Homo sapiens: one gene and its partner. The protein of the gene in region 1 purifies or fractionates together with the protein of each later gene. This does not show direct contact. Each region holds a gene or a part of one and is shown in the gene's direction. Other genes may lie near its edges.

Region 1 (3,368 bases):
CGCACGGCGCCGGTCTACCTCGCTGCGGTTATTGAGTACCTGACGGCCAAGGTCCTGGAGCTGGCGGGCAACGAGGCCCAGAACAGCGGAGAGCGGAACATCACTCCCCTGCTGCTGGACATGGTGGTTCACAACGACAGGCTACTGAGCACCCTTTTCAACACGACCACCATCTCTCAAGTGGCCCCTGGCGAGGACTAGCTTCTGACACCCGGCCCCTGGGACCTGACAGGTCCACTCGTCCACCCACCCGGCCCCAAATCCCCCGGCCTGAACCCCCGGCCTTAAACACCCTCCCCCCACAACCCAGGCCCCAAAGTCTTGGGCCTTCATTAATTCTGTCAATAAAATGTTTCAAGGAAGCCATCTGCCCGCTTCAGTCACTTTGCCTTGGGGTGGGGGTGGGGGGGCGGTGAGATGGGTTGGGGGGTTGTGAGACCTCCACAGCTGGAGGGATGGAGAGGTGGTGGGGGTCTGGGGTTGGGTGGGAGCCAGGGATGGCACAGAGGAGCCGTCTCTCCGGGTGACAGTGCAGGGGAGTGGCCCTGGGTGGGAAGGGGACACCCCCGCTGGTTCTGAGCAAGTCAGGGCCTGCCCGGGAAAGTCCTCAGCATGATGGTGTTCGTTGGGGCGGGTGGGCCTCAAGACCATGACTGCAGTGTTGCGACAGGACGGACTTCTAAGGCAACCGGGGTGGGGACGGAGAGGTGGACCCGGTGCTTGGCAAGGGGCCCTGGACCGGAAGACGGAGGACTGAGTAGTCGGGGCGGGGGGGGGGGGGGGGGACAACAGTCCAGAAATGCGCAGACATGGAATTAGGGTCACGAGTTTCCTTTGGGTCATGTTCAGATGGAGAGGCTGTGGGATGCCTTTAGCAACCTAGACCACTTGCATTGCAGCCGAGCTAGCAGCAGCTGGTGCCCCGCCAGGCCCCGCGTACCTTCCCAGGGTCTTGGATCCGCATCCCCGAGACCCTCGATTTGCATACGCCGCTCACAGCCCGGCCAGGCCCCGCCTCCGATCCCGCTCTTTGCACCTCACCAGGGCAAGGGGCAGGCTCGGGCTGGGGAGCCGGCGCGGGCACGGCGGCAGCCCGCCGAGGGGGACGCAGGGCACGTCGCCCCGCCCCGGCCCGCCCGCCAGCTGCGGCGGCGCGTCGGGAAGTGCTTGGGGCGGCGAGCATGGCGGCAGCGGCTGCAGGCCTGGGCGGCGGCGGCGCCGGCCCGGGACCCGAGGCCGGGGACTTCCTGGCCCGCTACCGGCTGGTATCGAACAAGCTGAAGAAGCGGTTCCTGCGGAAGCCGAACGTGGCGGAGGCCGGCGAGCAGTTCGGACAGCTGGGCCGGGAGCTGCGCGCCCAGGAGTGTCTGCCCTACGCGGCCTGGTGCCAGCTGGCGGTGGCGCGCTGCCAGCAGGCGCTCTTCCACGGGCCCGGGGAGGCGCTGGCCCTCACCGAGGCCGCCCGCCTCTTCCTGCGGCAGGAGCGCGACGCGCGCCAGCGCCTGGTCTGCCCCGCCGCCTACGGGGAGCCGCTGCAGGCCGCCGCCAGCGCCCTGGGCGCCGCGGTGCGTCTGCACCTCGAGCTGGGCCAGCCGGCCGCCGCCGCCGCCCTCTGCCTCGAGCTGGCCGCCGCCCTGCGCGACCTGGGCCAGCCGGCCGCCGCCGCCGGTCACTTCCAGCGCGCCGCCCAGCTCCAGCTGCCCCAGCTGCCCCTGGCCGCGCTGCAGGCGCTTGGCGAGGCCGCCTCCTGCCAGCTGCTGGCGCGCGACTACACCGGCGCCCTGGCGGTCTTCACGCGCATGCAGCGCCTGGCGCGGGAGCACGGCAGCCACCCGGTGCAGTCACTGCCGCCGCCCCCGCCGCCGGCACCCCAGCCCGGGCCCGGGGCGACGCCCGCCCTACCGGCCGCGCTGCTTCCTCCGAACTCCGGCTCGGCGGCGCCCTCTCCCGCCGCCCTGGGCGCCTTCTCGGACGTGCTGGTCCGCTGCGAGGTGTCCCGCGTGCTGCTGCTGCTCCTCCTGCAACCACCGCCCGCCAAGCTGCTGCCGGAGCACGCCCAGACCCTGGAGAAGTACTCCTGGGAGGCTTTTGACAGCCACGGGCAGGAGAGCAGCGGCCAGCTTCCCGAGGAGCTCTTTCTGCTGCTCCAGTCTTTGGTCATGGCTACCCACGAAAAGGACACGGAAGCCATCAAGTCGCTGCAGGTGGAGATGTGGCCACTGTTGACTGCTGAGCAGAACCACCTCCTTCACCTCGTTCTGCAAGAAACCATCTCCCCCTCAGGACAGGGAGTCTGATCCATCCCATTCACCCAGTGACTTCTTTTTGCCCAGGCCGGGACTTTTTGCATCAGTCACGTTAACCAGATGACTTTGCCTGTTACCAAACCTCATGCATCCACGTTTGCGTCTGGGGAGGAATAAAAAGACATCGTTCCCGCTTCTGCGTTTTGTTATTCCTACTGCCGCCATAGGAATTATTTCGTTGGCTGAACGTTACCAGCACCCCGAGAACACATTTTGATAGAATCAGAGTAGAGGACATGGCTGTCTTCTAAAAAGCCACGACATGAAAATGACAATCCCTTTCGTCTCCTTCCTCCGCTGCTTCCACCCAACGCAGCCTCCTGCCTCCGCCTTTGTTTCATAGTGAGGATTTTATTTTGCACGGCGCCCTCCCTCTAAATACCTACCCTAGATGATTTCATCCTGCCCCTCACTTCTTAACATATTCCTGTGTCTTTGTAATGGCCAAATTTCTCCTTCCACTCGTCCGCACGGTACGTCTTCATGGGAGTCATTTTATTCCTTACAGCTTCCTTGTAACCACAGCCCTAAATCCATGATAAAGCTACTCTTGTACTCCTCATGTGTGGTTTTGGTGTCCGTCGTCTATAAAATGTGACTCTCTTACCTACTTGTCAGGAGGCCAGCAGCAGAACCAGATAGCTGTTTGGGCTCCAGGATGTATTCGTTCCTTTGAAATTTGCGCTATGCCTCCTATGTGGGCAACGAACCTGCAGAGATCATCTATGATGTGCTCCGTACTCGGGTGACTGCAATGCAGATACATCCAGTGCAGCGGGTCTGGTGCCGATGCATCGATTTGCATTGGAATTCACGGTTCTGGTTCCATTCGCAGAGGTATATGCAGTCTGGATCACAACAGCTTTTATTTGTAATAGGGATTTTTTTTTTTTTTTTCCCCCCCCGAGATGGAGTCTCACTCTGTCGCCCAGGCAGGAGCGCAGTGGCGTGATCTCGGCTCACTGCAACCTCCGCCTCCTGGGTTCAAGCGATTCTCCTACCTCAACCTCCAGGGTGCCTGGGATTACAGGCGTGCACCACCACGCTGGGCTAATTTTTGTA
Region 2 (3,500 bases), on another chromosome or scaffold:
GCGGGACCAGGAGCAGAGCGTCATCTACGGCTCCATCGACTTCGGCAAGACCGTGGTGTCACACCCGCGGTACCTGGAGCTGCTGGAGCGCACGAGTCGGCCCCTCAAGATCCTGCGGCACCAGGTGCTCAACGACCGTGACGAGGAGGTGGAGCTCTGCTCCTCGGTCGAGTGCAAGGGCATCATTGGCAACGACGGGCGCCACTACATCCTCGACCTGCTGCGCACCTTCCCCCCGGACCTCAACTTCCTGCCCGTGCCTGGCGAGGAGCTGCCTGAGGAATGCGCCCGCGCCGGCTTCCCCCGCGCCCACCGGCACAAGCTCTGCTGCCTGCGCCAGGAGCTGGTGGACGCCTTCGTGGAGCACAGGTGAGGGGCGGCCCTGCCGGACCAGGGCCGGGGCCAGCTGCAGGGAGTGCGGGCGCCCTGGGTGGATCCGGGGTTGGGTCCTTGAAGGGAGAAGCGCTGGAGAGTGAAGAAGGGCTCCGTCTAGCCACAGTCATTGGAGACCCGTCCCCACCTGCCCTGCTGTCAGGCTCCCGAGCGCAGAAACCCGGGCTGCAGACTCGCGAGCAGCCAGGCGGGTAATGTGGCTGTGGCGGACACTGTTCTCTTAAGGAGCACTTGGAAGTCTGGGTGGCTGTGACTGTCCCCGTGCTGGGGCGGGCAGGTGGGGCACCGGGGGTCCCCGCCGCTGGTGTTTAGTGCTTAGGAAATGGGGAAATGGCCATGTCAGAGGTCCCACAGCATGAGTAACTCTCAAATGCCAGTGGCTTCCTGTCACTGTTGAGAGCCCTGACCTGGATGGGGAGCTCCTCTTTTCCCATACCCTCCAGAACGCAGCTGCCTTTTTTTTTTTTTTTCTGAGACGGAGTTTCACTCTTGTCGCCTAGGCTGGAGTGCAATGGCACGATCCCGGCTCACCGCAACCTCTGCCTCCCGGGTTCAAGTGATTCTCCTGTCTGAGCCTCCCGAATAGCTGGTATTACAGGCGTGCACCACCACGCCCAGCTAATTTTTTGTATTTTTAGTAGAGACGGGGTTTCTCCATGGTGGTCAGGCTGGTCTCGAACTCCCAACCTCAAGTGATCTGCCTGCCTCGTCCTCAAAGTGCTGGGATTACAGGCGTGAGCCACCACGCCCGGCCGCCTTTTTCTTCCTGTCTTGGGAGATCTTGGTTTTTCTGCGTTGACTCATGCACACCGGCCAGGAGGTGCCCTATGCCTGCGGGGTGTGGAGCCCCAGCTGCCGGGAGCCGTGGGCCAGCAGAGCTCCTCTCCCCGATGTCCAGCTCCTGCTCTGCCCTGTTTCCTCTGCTCCAGGTACCTCCTCTTTATGAAGCTGGCCGCCTTGCAGCTGATGCAGCAGAACGCCAGCCAGCTGGAGACCCCCTCCTCCCTGGAAAATGGTGGTCCTTCCTCCTTGGAGTCCAAGTCTGAGGATCCTCCAGGACAGGAGGCGGGAAGTGAGGAGGAGGGTAGCAGCGCCAGCGGCCTGGCCAAGGTGAAGGAGCTGGCAGAGACCATCGCCGCAGACGACGGCACAGGTGGGGCTGCTGCAGATGGCCGGGAGAGAGCCCGGGCTGGCCCTGCCAGGGTGGCTTATGACCCCCACCTGGGAGAGGCTGGCAGACATCTCTGCAAGGAGCTAGGGGGCGAGGCTTGGCGCAGCCCAGCTCCACCGGTGGCAGAGGGGACCCGTGTCTCATGGAGCCATGTCTCCACAGCAGACCCTCGGAGCCGGGAGGTGATCCGCAACGCGTGCAAGGCGGTCGGCTCCATCAGCAGCACCGCCTTCGACATTCGCTTCAATCCTGACATCTTCTCACCAGGCAGGTGGTGGGGGCCGGCCAGCGCAGGAGCCCTCCAGGGCCAGAGCTTCGCTGGGGGGCCTGGGCCCTTGGGGCTGGTGGGTTTGTCCCCCATCTGAGCGCTTCCCCCGCCAGCGCCAGGCGGCATTTGTCTTGCCACTGCCTGGCTCAGCCTCTCTGCTCTCCCTCCTCCAGGGGTTCGTTTCCCTGAGTCCTGCCAGGATGAAGTTCGGGACCAGAAGCAGCTGCTGAAGGACGCGGCTGCCTTCCTGCTCTCCTGCCAGATCCCTGGCTTGGTGAGGGAGGGGCTGCGGGGCTGGGTGGGGCTTGTGTGGAGGGTGCTGGTCCCTCATCTGTCTCCGACTTGGAGGCCCATGAACACAGGCTCGCAGGAGTGACTTTTTCAGCTTTCCCTGAGTGGGCATCCCCGTTTGACAGATGGGGAGCCTGACCCCCAGAGGTCAAGGGCACAGGCCCTGCTGAGCCCACCGTGTGGGCTGGCAGCTGGTAATCCAGTCTTCTGAGCCCTGGATGGTGGCATGGCTGGGGGACGGGGCCAGAGCTCAGTGGGGGCTGCCCATCCTCCTCCTCCTCCCGCAGGCTCTGTGTCTGGTTCCAGGATGCTGGGTGCTCCCCCAACACCGTGGCCTCCAAGCCTCAGGACACGGGGCTGGGGGTCAAGTAGTGCCCCCAAGCGGGCACCTCTGCTTCTCCCACATGGTTAGAGGGGGCCTGTACCACCACCGGGCTCTTGGTTCTTGGCCTGCGCTCCTGCCAGAGGCTGGGCACATTCTGACATCCTGACTGGGAGCTGGAGCCTTCGGGGTCCTTCTCCAGGGCCTCCCAGGATAGCTGTGCTCCCCCAGAAGGACTCAGTTGGGTGGAGGCAGAGGAGCTGGGTGGGGGCCTGAGCTGCTGCAGCCCGCAGGTGAAGGACTGCATGGAGCACGCGGTCCTGCCCGTGGACGGGGCAACGCTGGCAGAGGTGATGCGCCAGCGGGGCATCAACATGCGCTACCTGGGCAAGGTGCTGGAGCTGGTGCTGCGGAGCCCGGCCCGCCACCAGCTGGACCACGTCTTTGTGAGTGCTGCCCGGGGTGGGGCGGAACGGGAGCTGTGGGACTGGGATGGAGGCCGGGGGCCTGACCAAGACCTCCCTTCTGAATCCTTCCAGAAAATCGGCATTGGAGAACTCATCACCCGCTCGGCCAAGCACATCTTCAAGACGTACTTACAGGTGCCACCCGTCCGCTCTGCGGCTGGCCATGGCCTCCCAGGGTGGTGTGGGGCGTCGGGAAAGAGCCTGAGGTGGGGCTGAGGGCCCTCATGACTCGGATCCAACCTGCCTCGCAGGGAGTCGAGCTCTCCGGCCTCTCAGCCGCCATCAGCCACTTCCTGAACTGCTTCCTGAGCTCCTACCCAAACCCCGTGGCCCACCTGCCCGCCGACGAGCTGGTCTCCAAGAAGCGGAATAAGAGGAGGAAAAACCGGCCCCCGGGGGCTGCAGATAACACAGCCTGGGCTGTCATGACCCCCCAGGAGCTCTGGAAGAACATCTGCCAGGAGGCCAAGAACTACTTTGACTTCGACCTCGAGTGGTGCGTGCGGGGCAGGGGCGGTGGGGTGGGTGGGATTGGGCAGATGAGGCGGCCACCACCTGCTCCCAGATGGCGTCTAAGGCCTGTGGTCA

The links. Proteins that work in one complex are often made in the same cells at the same time.
Region 2: the proteins of F8A2 (region 1) and CLUH purify together in Homo sapiens (affinity purification with mass spectrometry, with the first as the bait; one large-scale study listed by BioGRID). This does not show direct contact.

What each region holds. Positions count from the first base shown.
Region 1 is NC_000023.11:155,380,934-155,384,301, forward strand, and holds F8A2 (40-kDa huntingtin-associated protein), read left to right. Parts: upstream 1-1,161; 5' UTR 1,162-1,181; coding exon 1,182-2,297; 3' UTR 2,298-2,868; downstream 2,869-3,368. Other genes in the region: H2AB2 (histone H2A-Bbd type 2/3), read left to right, coding at 1-201.
Region 2 is NC_000017.11:2,694,765-2,698,264, reverse strand, and holds part of CLUH (clustered mitochondria protein homolog), read left to right. Parts: coding exon 1-369; intron 370-1,322; coding exon 1,323-1,546; intron 1,547-1,726; coding exon 1,727-1,831; intron 1,832-2,005; coding exon 2,006-2,106; intron 2,107-2,738; coding exon 2,739-2,891; intron 2,892-2,984; coding exon 2,985-3,047; intron 3,048-3,163; coding exon 3,164-3,408; intron 3,409-3,500. UniProt on the Homo sapiens protein: mRNA-binding protein involved in proper cytoplasmic distribution of mitochondria.